Regions from separate parts of the Homo sapiens genome. Here regions 1 and 3 are each linked to region 2. The links come from fine-mapping of genetic effects on gene expression. A gene starts in region 2. Each other region holds a variant in brackets. All regions are shown on one strand. Distances are between the middles of the regions. Region 1 holds the start of LOC107985013 (a long non-coding RNA gene). Region 2 holds the start of TSEN54 (tRNA splicing endonuclease subunit 54). Region 3 overlaps LLGL2 (LLGL scribble cell polarity complex component 2).

Region 1 (5,000 bases), 130 kb after region 2:
CCCTAGCCCACCTTTGTTTGTTTGGTGACAGCAACTAAGGTCTGGTCAGGGCCGCTTGGCCACGCTCATGCCTTTTCCTCTCAACAGTTGCTTCTTTGAGTCAGGGTGCAGCTCTGGTCACCTGGCGGCCTCTTCAGCTCAGCCCTCCACAAAGTGTGAGCCTGAAGGACCACCCTGAATTGCCCTTGTAGGACCCAGAACAGCTACCAGCAGAATCAGGTAATGGCTCCCTCCTTCTCCACCTGGGCTGCCCTCACCTGGCTATGGGCTTGCAGTCTGCGATAAGGAGCTCCGCTTCTAGAGGACTCCTAAGTTCTATTCTCAGCTGCTCCAAGGAGGCTACCGAGGCCTCAGCTGGAGTTGGCCCCTCCTCGGCTCCTATACGCTCTCTCAAATGCCTCCCAAATGTTTGGCAGTTGGGGCAGGAAAAACAGGGAGACTCTATCATGATGCTTTTTAGATTCTAGCCAAGTAGGTCTCAGGGATGAGAGAGAGTCCTTGCTCACACTTGCTACTCAGGAAAGAAGGACTGGAGAATCCAGGGGCATCCCCTAGGAAGAATCCAGGGCCCCACTTCTTGCGCCAGTCCTGGCTCCTGTATCTAGAGCGGGGGAAATGCCATTTGCTGCTGGCTGCAGGCATCCAGCACAAAGACTCTAGCCCTTTCATGTCCCCTGGCTGCCAGGCGGGCCGGCTGCTCACAGAGGCTGCTACAGAGGCTGGAGTCGGCGGGCAGAGCATAGCACCTGGGACAGGGCCTGGGAGGGCTGCCTGCACTCAGGTCCTCTGTCCCTCTTTTCCAGATTCTCATGGACCAACTGGTATTCAAAGAGACAATCTGGAATGATGCGTTCTGGCAGAACCCCTGGGACCAGGGGGGCCTGGCAGTGATTATCTTATTCATCACCGCTGTCCTGCTTCTCATCTTATTTGCCATCGTGTTTGGTTTACTCACTTCCACAGAAAACACTCAGTGTGAAGCGGGTGAAGAGGAGTGACCTGACTTGCTGGGGACTGAGATGGCAGCAGGGGAGGCGAGCTGACCTGCCCCCATTCCAGTGGTGGGCCCCTTCGCGGTTCCCTCTGGCTCAGGGGCCAAGCCCTGGTGTCTTCCTTTCCCATCAGGAAAAAGTCTAGTAAAATACTGTATCTGGCTTAGGGTTGGTCAGACTAGTAAGATGGGGAGGCTGGTCTGAGACCAATTCTGGCTCCTTGACCCTATTGTTTTTAGGGTTCCCCGACCAGAACCCTAAAAGCACATGGAGAGGATGGCTCCACTGCCTCAGGTGGAAGGAGCTATGGCTAACAAGGTTCTCTAACAGGCTCACAGGCCCAGCCAGCAATTTCACAAATCCTTGACAGAGAAAGACACAACCAAATGAAATAAAAATTCCTTTTCAAATCTGCTAACTTGTGAGAGCTCATTTTTAATCCAGATAGAGCCACCAGAGCAAGCTTCCCGAACAAAGCCGCACCGGGGCCTGCACGCTCTAGCCTGCCTGTCTCCAGCCATCTTGCCCACCCCATCCTGCCCTGCCCCTGGGTTCTCAGCGTGTCTTTCAGTTCTTGAATATGCTGTGTTCTCTCCCACCACAGGGCCTTTGCACATGCTATTCTCATTGACCGGGATGCTCTCCCTCACACCACACTTTACTCTATGGCCTAGTTAGTCCTTCCTCATCCTTTGTATCTCCGTTTGAACCTGACTCCCTCAGGTAAATCTTCCCTAACCCTCAAGGATTAGGGTAAGGCCACTTGTTTTATACTCTCGAAACACCATTTACAGGACTTATATGTCTTTGTTGTTGTTGTTTCTTTGTTTTTGAGACAGAGTCTTGCTCTGTCACCCAGGCTAGAGTGCGGTGGCGCTATCTGGGCTCACTGCAAACTCCACCTCCCGGGTCACGCCATTCTCCTGCCTCAGCCTCCCGAGTAGCTGGGACTACAGGCTCCCACCACCGTGACCGGCTAATTTTTTTGTATTTTTAGTAGAGATGGGGTTTCACCGTGTTAGCCAGGATGGTCTCGATCTCCTCACCTTGTGATCCACCCGCCTCAGCCTCCAAAGTGCTAGGATTACACGCATGAGCCACGGCGCCCGGCCTTTTTTTTTTTTTTTTTTTGAGATGGGGTCTCACTCCCATCACCCAGGCTGCACTGTAGTGGCACCATCTCGGCTCACTGCAGATTCGACTTCTGAGTTTACATGATCCTCCCATCTCAGCCTCCTGAGCAGCTGGGACTACAGGCATGTGCCACCATGCCTGGCTAATTGTGTTTTTTG[G/T]TTTTTTTTTTTTGTATTTTTAGTAGAGACAGGGTCTTGCCATGTTGCCCAGGCTGGTCTTGAACTCCCAGGCTCAAGCGATCCTCCCACTTCAGCCTCCCAAAGTGCTGGTATAACAGGTATGAGCCACCATGGCCGGCTCTGGGACGGGGCTATTTCTGCCCACTAGTGTATCCCCCATGTCCAATGTGCCTGGCACAGAGCTGGCATCAGTCAATATTTATCAGCTGAATAAATGAATGAATGAGTAAACACACAGAGAAACAAGAAGATGCCAGGCTGTTGGGCACCCCCAGCCCCAAGATCCCAGGAAACAACAGGGCCCAATTCAATCCAGGTCTAAACACAAGGCTGCTCTTCCATCTCAAGATGCCGAGGCCTCAAGCTGGAGGTTGCTTCAAACCTAATAACTGTTCCCTGTGACACTAAAAGACACTCATTGTTATGAATAATCAAACACTGCTTTTTCAAGGCTGCAGCCCAGAGAAAGTAGCTACAGATAGAGAAGAGAGGAAAACCGCTGGCTGCCACAGCCCCGCCTCATTAGTTAACTGACCTGAGTATCTTTTCTGCTGGTCCCACTCCCATGTGCCTCAGACCCCACAACAAACTGACAAGAAACCTACAGCTTCCTTTGCAGAAATGCACCCACTTCTGCTGAGCCCACCCCACTAGCTCTGTCCCTCACTGCCAGGTGCCCGCCCCAAGGGATCGCTGGTGGGAGGCTGCTTCGACCTCAGCCTCCAATGAGAACTATTCTTAGGAAGCAAATATCTGGTGGAGAAGGGGCTTTTTCTTTGTGCTACACGCCAGTTATGCAATAAAGAAACATTCACTTATTCAAAGAACAGTAGCCAATACAGACATACCAGCAGCGTTTATTCCAGCCTGCTGCCTGGATTTCAGAATCATCACATGTAGCAAAGGAGACAGGCACGAGGCTGCTCAAGAGGCAGCGCAACACCGTCACCTGGACTCCTTGAGTCCACAGATGCCTGGACCCCAGCCCCTGGCAACCAGGCCACTGATGCACTAAGAAGTCCCAGCTCCCCGGAAGGTGACAGGAGAAATGAAGGCAGAGGCCCTTGGGAGGACCTGTTCCCTTGCCTGGCAGGCGGAGCAGACCCTGGGGACAGGCAGAGTTAACCCTCCAGAGAGCATTCCAGAGCCTCAGACAGCCCCAGAGCTTTTTTCAGCAAACAGGACTCACAATGAACAGGAACACTTGGCCCTTTCATTCCTCACCAGAAATAAGAGCTCTGCTCAAGAAGCCTAAGAAGGCCAAATTTAGCAACTCCCATATTAATTGTGCTTGAAAAGGGCTCTGGTCGCAAAGGCTGCAGGCAAGGGTGGTCCTGGCACTGCAGCCGACCACTTTTGCTGGGCGTGGTCTTGCCACAGAGGCCAAATTAGAGACAGCAGTTTGGAGAAGAAAATAGCTTCAGTCCAGAAGCCACCGACTCACTGGTCAACAGGAGGAGGTGGAAATAAAAACACACAGCCCAAAGAGTTTCTCTGATTTCCTCGCTTTTTTCTTGCAAAAACCAAGATGGCCCAGGTGTATGCAAATGAGGACGCCACTGAAAATCAGGAGACGGGTGTTTAGTGGCCTCAGTCTACCATGAGCTTCGTGACTGTGACCTCTCTGGACCTCAATTTATTCACCTCTAAGTCTGAAGCAATCACGTCAGCGTCATCCGACAGGATCATTCCATGAGATGAGATGAATCCAAGAGCTTTTTAGACCAAAATGTAAAAACTCCTCCTGGGTGTCTCTCCTGCAGGCACTCACAGCTCCGCATGCCTGGACACAACCTGACTACACCAAGCAGCCCTCAGACTCTTTCCGTGGCCCCTGCCCCATCGCCTGCAGATGCAGGTAAAACAGATGCGTGAGTTCAAAGCACATGACTCCCCGAGGTAAGTGGGGCCACAGGCTTCTGTGTGGGTCCTGGATAAGGGTGAGGACTACTCAAGTGATGCCAGAAGTCCCAGCTCGGTGGCACATGATGACCACAAAGCCGATGGCTCAGAGCTGGTCACATCCCTTGGAACTGAGTGGCTTGTGGGGCCAGCCATCCCAGAAGAGGGTGGAGTGGAGGGAAGGACACCACTCAGAATACTGAGCAAATCCCCACACTGCGAGAGATCCCGGGGCCTCCAATAGAGAAGAGCAAGGTCCTGACTTCCACACTGCCCGACACAACAGCCTTTGCAGGCAGGTGTCCCTTGGTAGCCTACGGGCTGTCTTATGTCAGCTGCTTAACTAGGGCGTGCCGGGGAAGTAAATGATCTCACTGACACTTTGCTCCACATATAAAATAAGTCACTTACCCCAGTTCTTCACAGAAGGTCACCAGGGCATCAAAGGCCATGATAGTGGCTTTATCAGATGCTTTGTTTCCTCTCTTTTCCTGGGGACAAAAAATGACCACTTAGCAAGTCTTATAGAATTGGACTACCTTAGAGCCACAAAAAGTAATGAGGAGGCCGAGTGCGGTGGCTCACGGCTGTAATCCCAGCACTTTGGGAGGCTGAGCCAGGAGGATCATTTGAGGTCAGGAGTTCGAGACCAGCCTGACCTACATGGTGAAACCCTGTCTCTACTAAAAATACAAAAAAATTAGCCAGGTGTGGCAGCGCATGCCTGTAGTCCCAGCTACTTGGGAGACTGAGGCAGAAGAATCACTTGAACCCAGGAGGTGGAGGTTTCAGC
Region 2 (10,122 bases):
AGAGACGGGGCTTCACCACGTTGCCCAGGCTGGTCTCGAACTCCTGACGTCAAGTGATCTGCCCACCTCGGCCTCCCAAAGTGAGACCCTATCTCTTTAAAAAGAAAAGAACAGAACAATCCCTAGGTAATACTGATGGGCAGCTGAGTGCAGAGCACAGGGGACAGGGTGCAGCTTTGCCTCTGCTCTGCCATGCTATGGCTGTGTGACTTTAGGCAAGTCACTAACCCTCTCTGAGCATCACTTTCCTTATCTACAGAACGGATATTGAAATACCTATCTCACAGGCAAGTGAGGAAATTATAATATTTCATACACTATAAGGTTTGCAAATGTCACCTTGTGATCTCACTTTTGTCACCAGCCTCTCCAGCTTCTCAGAGGACTGGGAGGGGAGGCACAGTGCCAGGGCCTCATAAGGAATCCCAGGCCCCAGTCATGCTGTGCCTGAGCCTACAGCCTGCGCAGGGTGAATTCTCCACTTTGGGACTGAGGGAAGGGACCTCCTTCCCCACAGACGCTTCCCACTGGGCACAAGGGAACTTCTCGGAGCCTAAGAGCCCAGCTCTGCAGTTCCCGCCACTGGCCTCCAAACCCCTCCCGCCTGCCCTCCTGAGGGCCTCACTTTGAGGACCCAGAGCGGTGAGGCCAGCAGCAGCTTGACCAAGGCCCCACTGGGCAGGTTGCCAAAAACAACACAGAGGTGACAGAAGAGGGGAGTGGCTGCACTGCTGGACCTTAGGGCCCTCCCCTGGGACCTCCTTAGCACCTCCCCAGTGGCACCCACCCTGTGTCCACTTCCCTAGGCACAGAGACCACCCCACAGCTCCACCTCTCCAGGCCCTGCGTCTCCTGCCCCAGTGTGCTAGTGGATGCATGAGGTTAAGGCCCTTCCTCTGGCACCCATACCCCAGGTGTTCAGGTAGCCTGGGGGACTCCTTCCTGTGCACAGGACCGAGGTGTATCTTGGGGCTAGAGCCCCTGAACTCCAGAGGAGACCTTCCCATCCAGGGAACTCCTCCTGCCTCAGTCTGGTGGCAGGAACCACCTCCTGCCTATGCTGATCTGGGATCTCAAGGTGACAAGTCCAGCGGCCTCCTGGGACAGCCCAGAGAGCCCTCCCTGAAGCCCAGAGGTCTATTCTCCCTGTGGGGGGTCGCACCACAGAGGTACCCAAGACATGGGGCTCAGGTGTGGCCGCTTGTGCATGGATCCCCCACAGCCCGGTCAGGTCTCGAGGCTAGGTGAAAATCTCCAGTAAATGAGCTCTGGCCACACCCCACCAGGACACACATGTCAGGGGAAGAGAAACTTTAGCAACTTGTTAGAGAGTGTTGAACTTTTTTTAAGCAGTAGAATTCCCTTTTTAAAAGCTATCTCGTGGCCTGGTGCGGTGGCTCATGCCTGCAATCCTAGCACTTTGGGAGGCTGAAGCGGGTGGATCACCTGAGGTCAGGAGTTCGAGACCAGCCTGACCTAGATGGTGAAACCCCGTCTCTAGTAAAAATTAGCCAGGCGTTGTGTCAGGCACCTGTAATCCCAGCTACTCGGGAGGCTGAGGCAGAAGAATAGCTTGAACCCGGGAGGCAGAGGCTGCAGTGCGCTGAGATCATGCCACTGCACTCCAGGCCGGGTGAGAAAGCAAGACTCCGTCTCAAAAAAAAAAAACAGCTATCTTATAGATATCCTCTTAAGACACGAACATAGAGGTGCTCTGGTTGAAATGTGTGCGTTTGAGGTTGGGGGTAGGGATGAAGTTCTATCTATTCAGTCTTCTCTAACCCACTGTCAGAAATCTCATGGCTCCAAAGAACACATCAGAAAGACCATCTGCTAGAAGGCAACTCCACGAAGACAGGAATTTGGGTCTGTTTTGTTCACTACTATGATCCAGTGCTTAGAACAGAGCCTGAGCCAGGCACAGTGACTCACGCCTGTAATCCTAGTACTAGGAGGCCTACCTAGGTGGGTGGATCACTTGAGGTCTGGAGTTCGAGACCAGTCTGGTCAACATGGTGAAACCCCCATCTCTACCAAAAATATAAAAAAAAATTAGCCGGGCATGGTGGCACACACCTGTAATCCCAGCTACTAGGGAGGCTGAGGCAGGAGAATGGCTTGAACCCAGAAGGCGGAGGTTCCCGTGAGCCGAGATCCTGCCACTGTACTCCAGCCTGGGTGACAAGCTATAGGCACTCAATAACAATGTGAATGAACGTACTTCAACCCTCTAATTTTGCAGGCCAGGAAACTGCAGCCCAGAGAGGTTAAGTGACTTGCCTAAGGACACACAGCAAGGGGGACCCAACTTTCTCTCTGGCTCTCTCACACAGAGGCACTTCTTACTGAGAACAAGACAGTCCACCCTCCTCAAATATGCAGATCACAGTGACCCACCCCCACCCACCAAGCCTCTGTGAACTGAGCGCTCGGCCTCAGCGGGATGCTCGTCCCACCCGGTACTCACTTGTCTTTGTGGCCTTGACCTTCGCCACCAGTTTCTGCACACCGGTCACATCTCCATTCTTGACGGCGAGGATCAGGTCCTGTTCACGACCCATACTGGCTCCTGGGCTGAGCTCTACACTCAGGAGTCCAGGGCAAAGGCAGGCAACGGGTCCAAGCTGGGGCGTCAGGGCGCCATGCCACAGCCCCTTGGAGGGCTCCCGGTTCCGGGGGAGCAAGTCAGGTGTCCCAGGCAGTGGGCTCCTCGTCAGGTACTGAGGGATACTCCCAAAGGTGCTCCGTGAACTGCCACCACACGAAGGAAAGCTAATCTTTGAGGGGGTGAAGGCTACATGGAAATCTGGATGGATATCAGCTTGTGGCTTCCGACAGCTCCAGGATGGGCTGGGACTGGGCACACCAATCTTCCCGGCTTGGCTGTGGAACACCAGTGCCCACCCAGAGAGCAGCCAGCATTCCCTTGGGCCTCAGGCAGCAGCGGTGCACTGGTCTCAGGGCTCTGGAAAAAGCACGGGGCCTCTGTCGAATGCTGGGCCACAGCCTGCAAGGGTCCCAGAAGTGGAGTGCAGAGGATGAGCAGGACAAGACCTCCAGGGAGCCCCCAAGCCACCCTGGCTCCCCTCGGAGTCGATGGTGATGCTGAGCCACTGAAAGTGGGGAGGAAGCTGCTATGCATGAGAGGAGTATTGGTGGGGGGGAGGTGGCATTCTGGGAGGGGGAGGCTGAGTCACTGGGGCCCCAGGGCACCTGGCAGTACCTCAACCTTGGGCAGGAGGGGCCCTGGCAGCATGACATACTGGGGCAGGCCGGGCCAGCAGCCTGTTCTCCACAGCCCGAGGCTCCGACACCCACAGACAACTGGCGGGCCAGGAGGTGGGGCCGGGAGGGTCAGGCACAGGCAGGCGGGCAGGGGTCACTCCCTGTCAAAGGCACCAGCCCCCAGATTCCTCCCTACGGAGGCTTCAAGGCTTCGCTTTAATGGCTGGATGCCCTAGTCCTAGGACTCTTTGTGAACGGAGAGCATGAAGTGCTTCTGGCCCCCCATTTCTGGGGGCTCTGCCTGCTAGAGAGGGAAGCTGCACAGCACCTGTTGCTGACCCGCCCTCGCCCCTTGTGTCGGGTGGAGGAGCAGCTGGGCAGAGAACAGAGAGAGCTGGGGCACTGCTGACAAACGGGGCTCCCAAGCCCCCCAAGCCTGAACCTGAAGCCCAGACCCTGGACTCCACCGCAGAGAAGCTTACGTCAGTTTCTCGGTGGCAGCGAATTTACTGCCAGAGTCTTGTGGCATGAGATCCGCGCAGGCCTGGGGCCCTGGCCGGGAACCCCTCACTCCCCAAACGTCCCAAGCCCAACCCAGGGGCACTCCCACGCGGAGCCCGCGGCCGACACGGGCGGAGGGCGCCCTTGGCAGTGCCTGGGGTCGGGCTGGCTCCCCCGCCCCCCGGAATGTCCCTCCAGCGCCTCGCAACCCCCCAGCCCAGCCCAGCCCAGCCCAGGCCCACCGGGGAACAAAGCGGCGGGAGAAGCCGGGCGGGCCAAGCGCCCGAGGTATAAACGCGGAGGATGGAAAAAGGGGCGCGAGGAGGACGGAAGGAGCGGGGAGATGGAGGTGCCCGCCGACCCCGCAAGAAAAGTTAGTTTGCGCCCGCCCCCAGGGGCGCTGACCCCCAGCGCGGGCCCCGCAGCCTCACCTCTCCCGGCCGCCCGCCGGGGTCCGGCTGGCCCTGCTCGGTCCCTGGCACTCAGGACGGTGGCTCCCACTCCCCCCTGCCCCCCTTTCTCCTTCTCCTTTTCCAAGGCCGGCTCGGCGCCTCCCGCAGGAAATCCCGCCCCTCCCCCCTCCCTCCCGCCGGATCGGGAACGGAGGGACCGTCCCGGCCGCGCAGTCAGGCTGTCAGTCAGCACCGGCGGCTCCGCCCCCATCCGCGCCAGATCCCGCCCCAACTCGTGCCCGCCCGGACCGGGGGCGCTGACCGGATCAGCGCATGCGCCCAGGTGAAACGGAGGGGCGGGGGGCGCGGGGGCAGAGGTGACCTGGGGCTCTGGACTTAGACCCAAGGGCTAGACACCCCGGGTCTGACTGGTGGGAGAGAAGACGTAATGTGAAGGGGGTTGGCAACCAAGACGCGGGACCCCACTTGCAGTACCCCCCGTCTGCGGCCGGCGTCGCCCACCCGCAGCCGCCGGCCGGGCAATGGCACCACCTAGCGGACGGCACCAGTGCGGGGACCCCAGCCTCGAGGAGGCGCTCGTGCCGGGCGGAGGTGGCGCTTCAGCACCGTCGTGGGCCGGACAGCGCCTCCCGCCCCCGGCCCTCGAAACCTGGCTTCGGAGCCCAGCCGTAGGGACCGGACGGAAGACACCGAAGGAATGGCGAACCTCCCCGGACCGCTCCTGACAGTTCCCGGGTGGCCTTCGGCCTGCAAAGTCGGAATTTGCACACCCTCCGCTCGTCCTTCCCTGAGCCCTTCTGCCCTCCTTGCCCAGCCCGGGCGGTGGGGACTAAGCAGCGCGAGGCTGCAGAGGGGCGGTCACAAGTGTGACCATTCGCACTGCACTCCAGACGCCGGCTCCTCAGGCTTTACTGGAGAGAAGCCCCGAGGAGGGCTAGGGGCAAAAGAGGGGCCTTCTGCATCTCCAGCAACCTGCGGGCTGAGCTCCCAGACCCGGCGTCGGGGTGCGCTTCCGGGCGGGCGCTAGGACCGGGGACAATCAGGAGGGCGCAGAGCGGGCTGGGGCGGTGCAGGGGGCGGGGCTGCCGCGGCATTGCGGATCGGCGGGCACTAGGGCAGCGCGGAGCTCCGGCGGTGGGCGGGGCGTGGCGGCGCGCGCAGCGGCAGGCGGCGGCGGGATGGAGCCCGAGCCCGAGCCCGCGGCCGTGGAGGTTCCCGCGGGGCGCGTGCTCAGGTGCGGCGCGGCCCGGCCGGAGTGGGTGTCGGGGGCGCGGGGCCAGCGCGGGTAGGGAAACCGGCGCCCGGGACCCGGCCAGGCGGCCCCCGATGCGCGGCGCTGACCCCGCGTCCCCTTCTCCCCCAGCGCCCGGGAGCTCTTCGCCGCCCGCTCGCGGTCGCAGAAGCTGCCCCAGCGCTCGCATGGCCCCAAGGACTTTCTGCCCGACGGCTCGGCAGCTCAGGCCGAGCGGCTGCGCCGGTGCCGGGAAGAGCTCTGGCAGCTGCTGGCAGAGCAGCGCGTGGAGCGCCTGTGAGAGGGGCGGGCCCAGGGGTAAGGGAAGCGGGGGCGAGGCGGGCCGCGGGGTCTCCGGAATGGACTGACGCAGACCCCTCCCCACTCCTCGCCAGGGGCAGCTTGGTGGCTGCCGAGTGGAGGCCAGAAGAGGGCTTCGTGGAGTTGAAGTCTCCCGCGGTGAGCGGCGGGCTCGGGGACCGGGGACCGCCCTCCCTGCCCTCCCTGCCCTCCCTCCCTTGTGACACTTGCTCTGGGCCCCACACAGGGCAAATTCTGGCAGACCATGGGCTTCTCAGAGCAGGGCCGGCAGCGCCTTCACCCGGAAGAGGCCTTGTATCTTCTGGAGTGTGTAAGTGGGGCCCGGGAGGTGGGGAAGGAGTTGGGACCAAAGAACGGGAAGGACACGTTTTATCGGAGAAAAAGCACACACAACCCGGTCTTTAGAGAACTGATAACCAAACTTCTAAAGCAGGAGGTGGTACGTTGCAGGGAGCAGGGATTCCAGTCCACATTAGTGATGCTGCCCCACTTTCCTGGTTGGCCACATTCTTGATGCGCTGCTGAGAGGGGGAGGGGGAGGTATCAGAGCTGGGAAGTTGCCCCATTCCTCTGTGGCACTGTAGTGAGGGCTCATAAGCTGAGCTGTTGGCCCCACTTCCAGGGCTCCATCCACCTCTTCCACCAAGACCTGCCACTGTCTATCCAGGAAGCTTACCAGCTGCTGCTGACCGACCACACTGTGACCTTCCTGCAGTACCAGGTATCTGCCACCACCCCGCCTCCGGGAGCCACCCATCCACTGAATCAATGAGTATTGACAAGTACCCATAAGGTGCCAGGCACAGTGTCACATGCTGGGGCTGCAGGGCAGACGAGGGCTATGCTGTCACGAGGCTTACATTGTGGTGGTGGCCTGTTGGCTTCACATAGACCCCAGTGCTGTCAGAAGATAAGGTGGGGGAAGAGAATCCAAAGAGACTGGGCTGTTCATTCAGGTGAGAGAAGCTAGGGGCTTGTCGCAGGTTGGGGGTGGGTAGAGTTGCAGTGAGTGAAAAATAGATGAATCTCAGAAATATTTTGGAGAAAGAATGGATAGGACTGCCAATGGATTGGATGTCAGGATTAAGGAGAGAGAAGAACCCAGGATTACCGCCCATGATTTGGGCATGCACCAGTGGATGAAGGTGCTGTCATTTTCTGAGTGGGAAGAATGAAGAGGAGCAGATTTGGGAGGACAAGACCAGTCGAAAGAACTGTGTCAGATAAGTTAATTTTGAGGAGCTTCTTGGACATCCAAGTGAGTGTAAAGCAGACAGACAATTGGAATCCAAGTCTGGAGTGTGAGGAGAGGTCAAGGCTAGATGTAAATATGGGTGCCATGAGCACATGGATGGTATTTAAACTACTGGGCTGTATGGGAGTGCCATCAGAGTAGAGGGCTGGGTCTGAGCCCTGGGGCTCTCTGTGTAGGTTAGGGGGCAGATAAGAAGCAGAAACAGACCGAGGAGTGTCTGGTGATGCAGGAGAAAAACCAAAGTCGCATCACAGAAGCCAAAAGAAGGTCTTTCAAGGAGGAAGTGGTTAGCTGTGCTAAAGCCTGCTGAGATCAAGCAGGATGGGGGACATTCTTATCTATGTTCCTCTGATATGAATGCAGGGACACAAGGTTGAATATGTGGCTCCCTACCAGAAACTTCCCACCGGCATCTGTGGAGGTGTGGGGCTGGAGAGATGCCCACCACCTGCCATCATTTTGTTCACATGGTGATCGGCAGCTTCACTCCTATGAGCTTTGTATCAAAATACTCAAGTATTTCAGGGCGTGGTGGTTTTCTGGTTTCATGGCTATCAGTTTTTTTGGATTTGGCTAAATGTCATTTGTGCCGAGTAAGGTAAGTGGGAGGACAGGAATTCAGAGCCTGAGATCTTTAGGGATGGTGTTCGTAATGAAGCATGGTCCAACCTTAATCACAGGGTTTAGAATCTGGGGGTGTACAGGAGGGGCAGAGAGGGCTGTGGGGATGGCCTGTGTCTGGAGAAACCATTTGGTGTTTTCCAGAGTGGCCATCTGAGCTTTCATTTTTTTTTTTTCTTTTGAGGTCTTCAGCCACCTGAAGAGGTTGGGTTATGTGGTTCGACGATTCCAACCAAGGTAAATCCCCTTCCTGTTCCCCTTCCATATATTCTAGTCCTGGGACCTGGCTGACTAGTCTAAGGTAGAAAATGGCCTCTCCTTACCTGGAACCCTTGGCTGGAGTGCAGTTCCTTGGGCACAGACTGGGGGCGCCTGCTGGAAGCGTTCTGAGAGAGGCAGGTTGGGAGGAATCCAGGTCATTTTGTTTTATTCTGGTTTATGAACTCGAGCCGCATCTTCAGATGACCTGCGCCTGCAGCTGAGTGTGTGTGAGCACTGAGAGGCAGGATTGGAACAGTGCCTGGCACTTAGTAGGTGCGCAGGCAGGTATGTAGAGTGTATGCTTAAATGAAGGACTGGGTGAAGAATTTACCATTAGTAGGGTTTCACATTTTTCATGCCAGGTTAAATGTTTTTTCCTTCATCACCTTAGTAATCCAGCATTGGTAAAAGGCAGAGACCTTCAGACTTGGAGTGGAAACGGGTACAGCTTTTGCAGTTACAGTATGTCACAAAAGCTCTAAAGCAGGCACATCTTTTCTTTTCTTTTTGAGACGGAGTCTCACTCTGTCGCCCAGGCTGTAGTGCAGTGGCATGATCTCAGCTTACTGTAGCCTCTGCCTCCTGGGTTCAAGCAGTTCTCCTGCCTCAGCCTCCCAAGTAGCTGGGATTACAGGCGTGTGCCACCATGCCTGGCTAATTTTTTTATTTTATTTTATTTTTAGTACAGATGGGGTTTCACTGTGTTGCCCAGGCTGGTCTCGAACTCCTGACCTCAAATGATCCTCCCGCCTCAGCCTCCCAAAGTGCTGGGATTACAGGCATGAGTCACCACGCCCAGCTCTACATCTTTTCTTTTCTGAAAGTGGAACCTATCCTAAGGAAATAATCGTGGACGTGTACAGTGGTTCACCTGTGAGAATGATCAACGATATTTATTATTTGCTGGGGGTCAGGCCCTGTACACATCGCTGAGAACAGAAGAGCAAAATCACTGCCCTCACAGAGCTTGCATTTAGTGAGGAGTCACACAGAACACACTCACTGTGCAAAATCAGTGTACTTGCAAACAAGAGTTGAACAAGAGGCAGGCTCACACAAATGAGAGGTTATCCCTTAGAGCAGCTCTGTCCAATAGAACTTTCTGTAATGATGAAAATGTTCTGTGTCTGTGATGTCTAATACATGGGGCTAGAGCAACTGTGGGACTGAATGTTTAATTTCATTTAATTTAAATGTATTTAAATCTAACTTAAATAGGCTGGTGTGGTGGCTCACGCCTATAATCCCAGCATTTTGGGAGGCCGACGCGGGCGGATCGCGTGAGCTCAGGAGTACGAGACCAGCCTGGACAGCGTGGTGAAACCCTGTCTCTACTAAAATACCAAAAAAAAAAAAAAAAAAAAATCAGCCAGGTGTGGTGGCAGGCGCCTATAGTCCCAGCTATTCAGGAGGCTGAGGCACGAGAATTGCTTGAACCTGGGCAGCTGAGGTTGCAGTGAGCCGAGATCTTGCCAGTGCACTCCAGCCTGGGCGAAAAAGCGAAACTCTATCTCAAAAAAAAAAGCAAACTTAAATAGCCACCTGTCGCTAGTGGCTCTTTTTTGAACAGCATTGCCTTAAAGCCTTAATTCACAGCCAGGAGGCCAGGCACAGTGGCTCACACCTGTAATCCCAGCACTTTAGGAGGCCGAGGCAGGTGGATCATGAGGTCAGGAGATGGAGACCATCCCGGCCAGCATGGTGAAACCTTGTCTCTACTAAGAATACAAAAATTAGCTGGGCATGGTGGCACGCGCCTGTAGTCCCGGTACTACTCGGGATGCTGAGGCAGGAGAATCGCTTGAACCCAGGAGATGGAGGTTGCAGTGAGCCAAGATTGTGCCACTGCACTCCAGCCCGGTGAGAGAACGAGACTGTGTCTCAAAAAAAAAAAAAAAAGAAAAAGGAAAAAATTCACAGCAGGGAAGAATGCTGCAGTGACGGGGCTGTGTCCACAATATATTATTGAGTGAAAAAAAAGATCACAAAGCAGTATGCTAGTACAATGACATTTTTGTTAGAAAAAAATATATGGAGAGAGATTAGTGTGTACATAAACGAAAGAAAGATGTTAACAATAGTTATCCAAGGTTTTTATTTTTCTATATTTACCAAGTTTGCTAGCTCCTCTGGGCCATTGCCTAGGCAGAGGCACATGGCTGGGCCCCCTGGCTGGGCCTGTACCCCTCATGGGGGTCTGCTTAGGGCCTTAGCACTTGGGTGTGGCTCCGATCCTGGCCCACTGACTGTCCTCTTGGCCCGTTTCCTTACACATCCCACCAGATCCCCAGGCT
Region 3 (10,122 bases), 26 kb after region 2:
CCTAGCACTTTGTGGGGCCGAGGTGGGCAGATCACTTGAGATCAGGAGTTCGAGACCAGCCTGGCCAATATGGTGAAAACCACAGCTCTACTAAAAATAACAAAAAAATTAGCCAGGCATGGTGGTGGACACCTGTAATTCCAGCTACTTGGGAGGCTGAGGCAGGAGAATTGCTTGAACCTGGGAAACACAGTTGCAGTGAGCTAAGATTACACCACTGCACTTCAGCCTGGGCGACAGAGCGAGACTCCATCTCCAAAAAAAAAAAATCCCTTAAAACCATGGTGGACAGGGACAGCCTCCCAGCCTCCTAGGACTCGGAGAATGGTCAGGATGGGTTCAGATGGGAAGGCTTTTTGGAAGGTGACCTTTTTTTTTTTTTTTTTTTGAGACAGTCTCTCTCTGTTGCCCCGGCTGTATTACAGTGGCACAATCTCGATTCACTGCAGCCTCCGCCTCCTGGGTTCAAGCAATTCTCCTGCCTCAGCCTCCTGAGTAGTTGGGACCACATGGTGCCCGTCACCATACCTGGCTAATTTTTTGTCTTTTTAGTAGAGATGAGGTTTTGCTGTGTTGGCCAAGCTAGTCTCAAACTCCTGGCCTCAAGTGATCAGCCCGCCTTGGCCTCCCAAACTGCTGGGATTACAGGCGTGAGCCACCTCGCCCAGCCTGGAAGGGGGGCCGGGCTGATTGAGGGGGCAAGAAGGTATTTCAGACAGAGAATGGCAGGGACCATAGTGAATGGGGCCAGGGTGGGGCTGAGTAGATGGAGCAGCCAACAGGGCCAAGGAGAGAGGGCCAGTGACATGGAGGAGGGAACGGGGGGTGGGCAGGCCCCATCAGGTCCCTGCCTAGGACAGCTCAGGAGGCCCACTTTGTCATCTCTCTCATGTCATCTGCACAGATCTCTGCATTGGGCCCCCCACTTGTCTTCATCCTGAAACATAGAAGCCTCTCTCATCTTGAGGCTTTGCAGCTGTTGTTCCTTCTGCCTAACACACTGTGCCCCAAGTTGTCTGTGGCTGGCCCCTTCCCACCAGTCAGTCTCAGTGGAGACCTCGCCTCCTCTGTTCATTCATTCATTCAACAGATAACGAGTGAGGACTCGCTGTGTGCACTCGGATACAGCAGTGAATAAAAGGACAAAAGGTCTTGAATGGGAAAAAGAAAGCTGCTGCTTGTGGGGGATTCCACAGGTAATCAACAAGATTAATAAGTAAGCTATTCAGTGTGTCCAAACGTGGCCAGGTCCAAGGAGAAAAGCGGTGCAGGGAGGGAGAGAGAACATCCCAGGAGATTGCAGCTTCAGGTCGGGGAGGGCGTGAAGGTATCTGGAGGAAAGTGACCCAGGCAGTAGGAACAGGGAACGCACAGGCTCTGACAAGGGAATGGTCACTGAGACCTGTTGGCCACCAAAGCCTAGTTGCTGGATCTTCGCATCCTCTTTTTCTTTCTTTTTCTTTTTTTTAGAAACAAGAGTCTCGCTCTGTGGCCCAGGCTGGAGTGCAGTGGTACAGTCATAGCTCACAGCAGCCTCAAACTCCTGGGCTCCACTGATCTTCCCGCCTCAGCCTCCCAAGTAGCTGGGACCACAGGTGCTTGACACCATGCCTGGCTAATCCTTTTTGTTTGTTTTGAGACAGAGTTTCGCTCTGTCACCTAGGCTAGAGTACAGTGGTGGGTTCATAGCTCACTGCAGCCTCAACTTCCCAGGCTCAGCAATCCTTCCACCTTAGCCTTTTGAGTGGCTGGGACCACAGGTGCATGCCACCATGCCCAGCTAATTTTGTTTTTATTATTTTTAGAGATAGGGTCTCCCTATGTTGCCCTGGCTGGTCTTGAACTCCTGAGCTCAAGTGATCCTCCCACCGTAGCCTCCCAAAGTGGATTACAAGCATGAGCCACTGTGCCCAGCCCTCCTTTCTTTTCAAAATTTTTATTGTTCCATGTAAATTTGAAAAAATGTCCTTTCCTTTTTTTTTTAGAGACAGGGTCTCACTATGTTGCCCAGGCTGGTCGTCTCCAGCTCCTAGGCTCAAGTGATCCTCCCACCTTGGCCTCCCAAAGTGCTGGGATTATAGGAGTGAGCCACCGTGCCCAGCCCATCTCTTTTTTTTGATCAGAGATAGTCCTGACCTCTGTCAGAAATCATCCCATTTTCTGGTTACTTTTTTTTTTTTTTTTTTATACAGAATTTCACTCCGTCACCCAGACTGGAGTGCAGTGGTGCGATCTCAGCTCACTGTAACCTCCACCTCCCAGGTTCAAGTGATTCTCCTGCCTCAGCCTCCTGAGTAGCTGAAACTACAGGAGCACACTACCAGACTCAGTTAATTTTTGTATTTTTAGTAGAGACGGGGTTTCACCATGTTGACCCAGGCTGGTCTCGAACTCCTGACCTCAAGTGATCCACCCGCCTCGGCCTCCCAGAGTGCTGGGATTACAGGTGTGAGTTACTGCGGCTGGTTGGAAATCATCCCATTTTCTGATTTGTGTCCTGTGAAGTGTCTGTTGCTCCCCTGTCACTGCTGTATCCCTTTCCTAGGACAGTGTCTGCTCCATGCCAAGCTCTTGCTCCTTCTACAGGATCTGTGTGGGAGGGAGTGCCATCCCCCTTTACAGAGGAGCTGTCTCTGGAGGCCATGTGGCTTGGGGGAGCTATGCGGTGCTGTGATGGTGAGCCCTGGCCTGTTGGCCCCTAGCCCAGGGCTCTTTCCCTTACAACCCCTGGCTCCCTCCAGGAATGGGCTGAGTAGGCAGGATCTGTTCATACCAGGCGTCTCTAGGCCTGGCTTCCTGAAGTTTCTCTGCAGAGAACCTGCTTGTCTGGGGTGGGGAGCTGAGGAGCCACCTGGAGGTGAGGCCCGCCAGGTCTAGACCAGCCCCCTCTTCAAGGAAGCGTGGTGCTTTTCCATGCCTTGACCTGGGCAGTGGGTTGATTGGAGTGAGGGGATACCATGCCCACCCTGCCTTGGTCCTCCTGGCTCCATCACCCCATGCCCATGAGGTCCCAGCCCCGTGTGGGAAGAGCAGCAGGTCCACACAAGGCCACCAGCCCTGCCCAGCCAGACCTCGCCAGCACCCTGTCAGCAGCGGCCAGTCCCCAGGCCCCAGACTGCCGGGTCGGCTCTGAGCTGCCAGCATCTGGGAGCGTGTCTGTGCGTGTCCCTGCCTCTTAATTGCAAGGGTGTCATTGGGCATCCTTTGTTCTGTATTATCCATCCATCACTGCTACCCACAGCCCTTCTGACTTGGGGTCCAGTCCGAGTTCTGCCGCTTCCTACTTGGTGACCTTGACAGGGTGTTTTGCTGCTGTGGTCTGTTTCCTTGCCTGTCTAGTGGGGACGTTCTGCTTACCTTTCAGATGGCTTCCCAGATCAGGGTGGTGTGAGGGGCTCCACGCTCACAAACTCACACAGTGCCAAGGAAAGGAGATGGCCAGGACATTCAGCGACCCATGACTGTGACTCTCTGGATGCTGGGGTTTAGGGAGGATTTTCTTGTCTGTATTTGGTTTTTCTACAATGGGCACAGATTACTTGAGCAAAATGTTTTAAATGGAATAGGATGCAGAGGGTCTGGTACACTCACTCCCTACTGCACAGCAGGTGCCCCAGGGAGCATTTGGGTGGGTGGGTGGTGCTCAGTGTCCACGCCCTCCTGATGCCATTGCTACACCCTGTCTTCCTCCTTCCTACTGGCACCTCCTCCCAGCCCCCAGTTCTGCCTTGTCACTTTTAAGCCTGTGTGGAGTCTTTGGCACGGATGGCCCTGTGCCCTCTTGTCCCCTCCCTGGAGTCTGCAGGCAGTGGTCACTCTCCAGGGAGCCCCCACCAAGCTTCCTCTGACTTCTGACCCAGTGACCTTGGCCTGGGCCCCGGGTGGGGGTGTGAGCCCTCCAGGAGTCCAACTGGTTTATGAGTGTGAGCTGCCCTCCCCCAGGCTGCAATGCTGGGCCAGCAGATCTGGGTGTCCCCTCACTTCCATTCCAGAAGCCCTTGGGGCTTTCCCAGCCGGTGCCTGTTCTCTGAACCCCCTTGGGACCTTGGATCAAGTGGGCCCTAGGAGTTTCCCGGCCACCTGCTCTTCCCCAGCAAAGTGGGATCCCCACCTCTGGTCTGACTCCTCCAAAATGTGAAGGCAGGAACATCCCGGAATGACCCCCTTTTTCAGTTTCCCCAGAAGGTGACAGCGCTCTGGGGGCTGGTTCCTGGTATTCGGTTTTGAGATAACTGACCGTGCAGATCCTTTCACTCAAGGGGGATGTGGCTCTGCTTTTTTTTTTTTTTTTTTTTTTTTTTTTTTTGAGATACTGTTTTTGCTCTGTTGCCCAGGCCGGAGTGCAATGGCCTGATCTTGGCTCACTGCAACCTCCGCCTCTTGGGTTCTAGCAATTCTCCTGCCTTAGCCTTCCAAGTAGCTGGGATTACAGGCGTCTGCCACCACACTCGGCTAACTTTTTGTATTTTTAGTAGAGACGAGGTTTCACCATGTTGGCCAGGCTGGTCTCAAACTCTTGACCTGAGGTGATCCACCTGCCTCCGCCTCCCAAAGTGCTGGGATTACAAGACTGCCATTTTTTACAGTGCGATTTTGTAAAATCGGGTCACCCTCCCAGCACAGCAAGCCCTCGGTTCCTCTGCCCGAAGACACCCCCAACTCTGCCACGCACGTTACCTACCTTCTCCCACGCTGCCCAGATTACATGGGATCCTATCATATGCAAAGTCCTGACCTGATGGTTAATTTTTGCCACCTCCCAAGAACGCGAAATCCTTCAAACCTCAGCTTAGAT[ACCT/A]TCTTCTCGAAGGTATCTAAGCTGCCTCCCACTTCGGGCCAGGTGTTCCCTCTCCCTCCTGCAGTCAAAGCACTCAACACTGGGCTGCCCTGTCTCTACCTGTCCCTGCCTGGAGCACGCGCCTCCAGGGTGCGGCCTGGATCTGCTTCCTTCCCCCATCCTGCTGGGAGTGGACGGAGCTGTGCCCAGGGTCTGTGTTTCCCAAGGACGGGCCTTGCTGTCCTGTGGTCAGCAGGAGGCTGAGCTACTGGAAGCCAGAAGCTGGAGCACAGAGGCTCCTTCCCCTTCCCCCAAGGATAATCCAGAAATGGTTTCCCCTTGGGCTGGGAATGGATTCTATGGTGGGCGGAGAGTTTAGGGGCCTTGAGCTGGTTTCTTTATTGGGAGCAGATTCCTCCTGATTATTCTCCACTAGGGCCCGTGGGAAAGAGAACCTTTCTGAGCACAGCCCATGAGCGCACAGGGAAGCTGGACTGGGGCTAGCCAGAGAGAGGGGAGGGGACCGGCAGAGACCCCAGGCACGGTGGCATGGGCCAGCACCCCCTGACCGAGTGCTCTGTGCCACCCGTGCCCACTTGAGTTTCTCATGGCTGTGGCTGGTTGGAGAGGCTGAGGCCGAGAGTCCCTGGACAGCCTTCCCCGAGGTCAGAAGGAGGAAGCATCTGCCCGGTGCCCTGGCCTGGAGTCACTGCAGGCCTCTCCCCTGCCCCGACTTGGGCTCTGATCTGGGAAGGATGGCCTTGGTGTTTCTACCTTCCACAAGACTTTGGAGGAAGAGGCTTGCGAAGTTTCCCTTTCTGCTTAGCTGGAGTTTCATGGTTTCTCAGAAAACAGGTTAACAATTAAGCTAATTAACCTCAGGGCCCGCCGGCCCTCCTTGTGCTTATAAAGCCAGGCTAAATGGCTTCCTCCCCCAGCTTTTCCTACCCCCATTATAAGGCCACAGGTGGTGACAGCCTTCAGCCCTGAGGTGGGCCGGCCTCTAGATCTGAGCGTGGGGAAGCCAGGGTGCATGGGCGGTCACTGTGAAGCTGGCCTGGCCCCGGGGTGGCAGCCTACTGGACTTGGAGAGAGAGGCCCTGCTCCACCTGTTTGGGCCGGGCCTAATCGATACCTGAGTGCCAGGACAGACCCCTGCAGCTCCTTCTGTTTCTCCAGGTCTCCAGTGGGGGCTGCAGACTAAGCAAAATGAGGCGGTTCCTGAGGCCAGGGCATGACCCTGTGCGGGAGAGGCTCAAGCGGGACCTGTTCCAGTTTAACAAGGTAAGTTAGGGAGAGCAGGGAAGATGACCCCCAGGTTTTCGGCCAAGCAGCTCAGGCTGGGGCTGAGGCACCTCTTACCTGGATTAAGGTATAGCTCTTATGTGACTGCCTGCAGTGCCTCTTGGGACTCAGACTTTGGAAATGGGGCCTGGTTAAAGGGCTTTTATAGAAAAGGGGAATAGGTTGCCCTCATGAGTTGGGACTTCTCATCTGAAGGCTTTCACTGGCTGTGTGACCTCTGCAAGTCACTCCACCTCATGGAGCCTCAGTTTCCCTACCTGTATCATGGGAATAAAACGATCTGCCATGTCTACCTCGGCACAGGGTTGTCAAGGAGGTTTAGGGACGTGGGAGATGAAAGGATGAACTCTTCAGGGGGTGATAATGTTCCAGGTCCCTTGGGGCCCTGGAGTCACAGGCCATGGCTGTTTCTCCCTTCTCAAATTGCCCCTGAAGGAAAATGCAGCTCCCCTGCAGGCTGAACACGTGATTCCTTCTGGCTCCGGCCGGGGTGAGTGGGGAGAGGTGCCCAGGAGAATGAGCCGGAGTTGGCCTCGGACTACCCCAATCCCAAACCTGTATCCGGGGTACCAGAAGGCCCACGGGGCTTCCCTTCAGGAGTCTGGGGCCTGAGAAGGTCAGGACGGGCCTGTACGCAGGAGGCGTGCAGTGTGGCTCTTCAGCTCCCGGGCCACCAAGCAGTGTGGGGCCTTGTGAGGTAATGATCTTCTCACCTCTGCTTTGCGCCTCTGCTGGGAAGGTGGGCTGCAGGAACTGGGACACTGTGATCCTCTTCCCCCGGGGAGCCAGGACCCTCCCAATATGCTGAGGGCAGGACATGTGGCTTTCGTTGGGGGCTTCCGTTTGGGCTCCCCTGCCCCCGAAAGGAAGCAGTGGATGTGAGACCAGACAGTCTGGAAAAGGGATGTCTCCCTGTGGAGAATGAGGAAGTCTCTTTGGTTGTATTTTTGTTATTGATTTGAGAACTGTAGAAGTCAGCTTGCCCAGGTGCAAACCCAACTTTGCCACATAGAAGCTGGATGGCCGTGTGCCTGTCGCCCACACCATAGGCTTGTTAAGGGCGTACGTGGGGTGAGGTAACTTAAGTGCTAGGCACAGTGGCCCAGGAATGCTGGCTGCTGCTGTGGGCTGGAGGGGATCTCCGTGACCTCCCTGTTGGGAGAGGTGGGTCGTGGGGTGGAGGGACCTCCCTGACCTCCCCGTTGGGAGAGGTGGGTCAGCGCTCCCAATGTGCCCTGCCATTTCTCTCTGTGTTTCTTAGCCTGTGGGAGGAGTTGGTGTCCCTGATGGAGCTTTGCCACGAGGACATTTGCCTCTGGAATTAGGGCTTTCCTATCCCAACGTGCCTCCTGCCAGCTCGCTTTTGGGCCTTGGGATATGGGGGTGCAGGTGTTGGGAATGGGAGATCTCAGGACACCTACAGCCTGCTACCCTTGCTCTGGAGGGAGTAGCCTATGGGTGCTGGGTCTCAAAGCTTCGGTGTCCACGGGAGATGGAAGGGAACTGAGTGACCCCCATCTGCCTCCAGTCTTTCGCTTTGAAAAGGTGGCAGAAACCTGACAGGCTCAGCAAATAGGGCTGAACACCCCCCTACCCCTGCCCCCTTGCACCAAGTTCTGTCTGTGCAGCTGAGTGAGGCTAGGGTGGAGCTGGGGCAAGGAGTTGTCCCTTCTTCTTTCCCCTATCCCCCAGGGGTGATCCCCAAACTTGATTGTCCCACTCCCAGGCCTGGGGGTGGCAGAGGGAGGCTCCTGGGTCTCCTGCTCTGCCTTCTTCTTTCCATTCATATGCAAGAAGCATGCATTGAGCACTTACTGGATCCACAGCCCAAGGCTCAGGGCTATGGGAATCTGATTAGGCCTCTGCCCTCCACTTTTACAGTCTGCAGGAGGGAGGAGGCTGATGGCCTGAAATTTCAGGCCTTGGAAGTGGAGAGGAGGAAGGGGAGAGCCCAGGGGATTCAGGAGCGGGGTAGACTCATCCGGCTCGGGGAGTGTGGTGGGGCCAGCAGGGTGGGATTGGAGGATGAGGCCAGATCCCAGAGGATTTGGGATCCCGTCTGCCCTGCCCCTCCCCAGCCCAGGCTGTGAAGCAGGGAGGCTGCTGGTATCTGGGCCTGATCTGACCCTGCGGCTCCAGGGGTTGTGAGCAAGGGAGTGAATAGTGGTCCCATTTACAATGTAGGAAAGATAAACCTGGAGATGTTTTTACCCTTTGGGCAAGGCAGGTAAGCTCAGAGCAGTTAGGAGACATTGCCCCGACTAAGATAGGTGACAGCCCAGAAGGAAGGGACTGGAAGCCCAGCCAGTGGGGATGGGAACGAGGCATGAATTGAGCAGGGTTTCTCAACTTCAGCACTCACAGATGATATTTGAGGCTGGCTGTGCTGCGGAGGCTGTCCTGTGCGTTGTAGATTATTTAGCAGTGTCCCTAGTCCTACCCACTAGATGCCAGTAGCACATACATACACACACAGCCTGTCAAGATGTGACAACCAAGAATGTTTCCTGAGGGGTAAAATCGCTCCTGGTTTGAGACCCATGGAATAGAGAACTATTCAGGGCTGAGATCTGCTGATGGGGCAGTAAAGAGGGAGGGGATGGGGAGGGGAGGCGGGTGTGCAGGATGACCGTGAAGTCTCTGACCTGGGTAGGTGGTGGTGCCAGGCCTTGGGAGGGGGAGCCCAGGCCAGGAGTGGCGAAGAACAGATTTGAGGAAAAGTAATGTATTTTGATCGTTTTGATTTGGACACAATCGCAACAACAGTGCTCTCCATTTTTGGAGAGGCAGCTTGCCCAGAGGTGAGTGGTGCCGACTGCCCGGCTCGCCAGCTGTGTGACCTTGAGCAGGTCACATGCCTCTGAGATAATGATAATCAGAGCCACTCCATCCATAGAGTTGGTGTGAGGACTACATGAGTTCCTGCACGAATCGAAGGCCACGTCTGGCTGGCGGCTGCAGTGTCCGGCAGCATCGTTCTGTGGTGGGTGTCATGTGGCTTGAGGTTGAGTTGGGGGAGCCTTGGGACAGGCCCAGCAGACAGGCGGAGGGCAGGTCCAGCAGACAGGCGGAGGGCAGGTCCAGCAGACAGGCGGAGGGCAGGTCCAGCAGACAGGCGGAGGGCAGGTCCAGCAGACAGGCGGAGGGCAGGTCCAGCAGACAGGCGGAGGGCAGGTCCAGCAGACAGACGGAGGGCAGGTCCAGCAGACAGGCGGAGGGCAGGTCCAGCAGACAGGCGGAGGGCAGGTCCAGCAGACAGACGGAGGGCAGGTCCAGCAGACAGGCGGAGGGCAGGTCCAGCAGACAGGCGGAGGGCAGGTCCAGCAGACAGGCGGAGGGCAGGTCCAGCGGACGGTGGGATACCCAGGGCTGGAGCCTGGAGCGGCACGTGGGCTGTTGGTGTAGGCGAGGGTCAGGCCCCAGACAGTGTTCATGCTGGCAACTCAGGTCATCTCTTCCAGTGGTCCTGGAAGGCCAGTCTGCTGGGTACTGTGACAGCTGGGACAGTGGCGCCATCACAGCTCGACCCCAGGTGGCTTGTAGACACTGGCTTCTGAACCAGTTCTGGCCTTTTTGTCCAACACCTTTTGGCTCAACTCCTTTATACCCACACCAAGCCCGATGCCTCAAAGAGAGCAAGGACATCGCCCCGGGGGTCCTGAGAGGGAGACGTCTTGTTTCTTTGGCTTCAGTACTTCCAGAGGATCTGTGATTGCGAACAGTCTCTGAACTCTGCCAGGAACTGGCTGTCAGAGCGGTAACTCCAGTTCACCGAGGGCTATGTGCCAGGCATCAGAGGGGCCAGGTAGTGGTTAGGGGCAGGGACTTTGCAGCCACATGACCTGGGTCTAGATGCGGGCTCTGATGCTTCCTCACTGTGTAAGACACAGTGGACGCATTACTTAGCCTCTCTGTTCTTTAGTTTCCTCATCTGTAAAATGGGCATTGTAGGGGAGCAAAAACTGGCTTCCCTCCAGCCTTCTAGGTTCTTTGGCTGGGCTATGAATTAAATTGACGAGAGGCGGGGCGCAGTGGCTCAT

What was found.
Region 1: its variant is fine-mapped to the expression of TSEN54 in whole blood (TOPMed, PIP 0.96).
Region 3: its variant is fine-mapped to the expression of TSEN54 in whole blood (TOPMed, PIP above 0.99).

What each region holds. Positions count from the first base shown.
Region 1 is chr17:75,646,568-75,651,567 of GRCh38, forward strand. It overlaps RECQL5 (RecQ like helicase 5), which reads right to left. Exons shown (of 20, transcript NM_004259.7): 8 at 4,619-4,698. ERLN (endoregulin) reads left to right here. Exons shown (of 2, transcript NM_001162997.2): 1 at 1-219; 2 at 804-1,407. The coding sequence starts at 810. The coding sequence ends at 998. LOC107985013 (a long non-coding RNA gene) reads left to right here and starts at 4,069. Exons shown (of 3, transcript XR_001753017.1): 1 at 4,069-4,204. RefSeq lists an enhancer at 1-2. The variant G/T (reference allele first, on the strand shown) is at 2,285.
Region 2 is chr17:75,511,244-75,521,365 of GRCh38, forward strand. It overlaps TSEN54 (tRNA splicing endonuclease subunit 54), which reads left to right and starts at 5,285. Exons shown (of 11, transcript NM_207346.3): 1 at 5,285-5,373; 2 at 5,503-5,667; 3 at 5,766-5,829; 4 at 5,918-6,001; 5 at 6,314-6,412; 6 at 7,752-7,804. The coding sequence starts at 5,318. CASKIN2 (CASK interacting protein 2) reads right to left here and starts at 4,294. Exons shown (of 20, transcript NM_020753.5): 1 at 4,158-4,294; 2 at 2,468-2,965. The coding sequence starts at 2,561. RefSeq lists enhancers at 3,404-3,970, 5,065-5,359 and silencers at 4,144-4,753, 5,144-5,523.
Region 3 is chr17:75,537,441-75,547,562 of GRCh38, forward strand. It overlaps LLGL2 (LLGL scribble cell polarity complex component 2), which reads left to right. Exons shown (of 26, transcript NM_001031803.2): 2 at 5,957-6,061. The coding sequence starts at 5,987. Among named protein-coding and RNA genes, the nearest start is that of LLGL2, 17 kb to the left of the region's middle. RefSeq lists enhancers at 4,088-4,905, 7,266-8,068. The variant ACCT/A (reference allele first, on the strand shown) is at 4,796.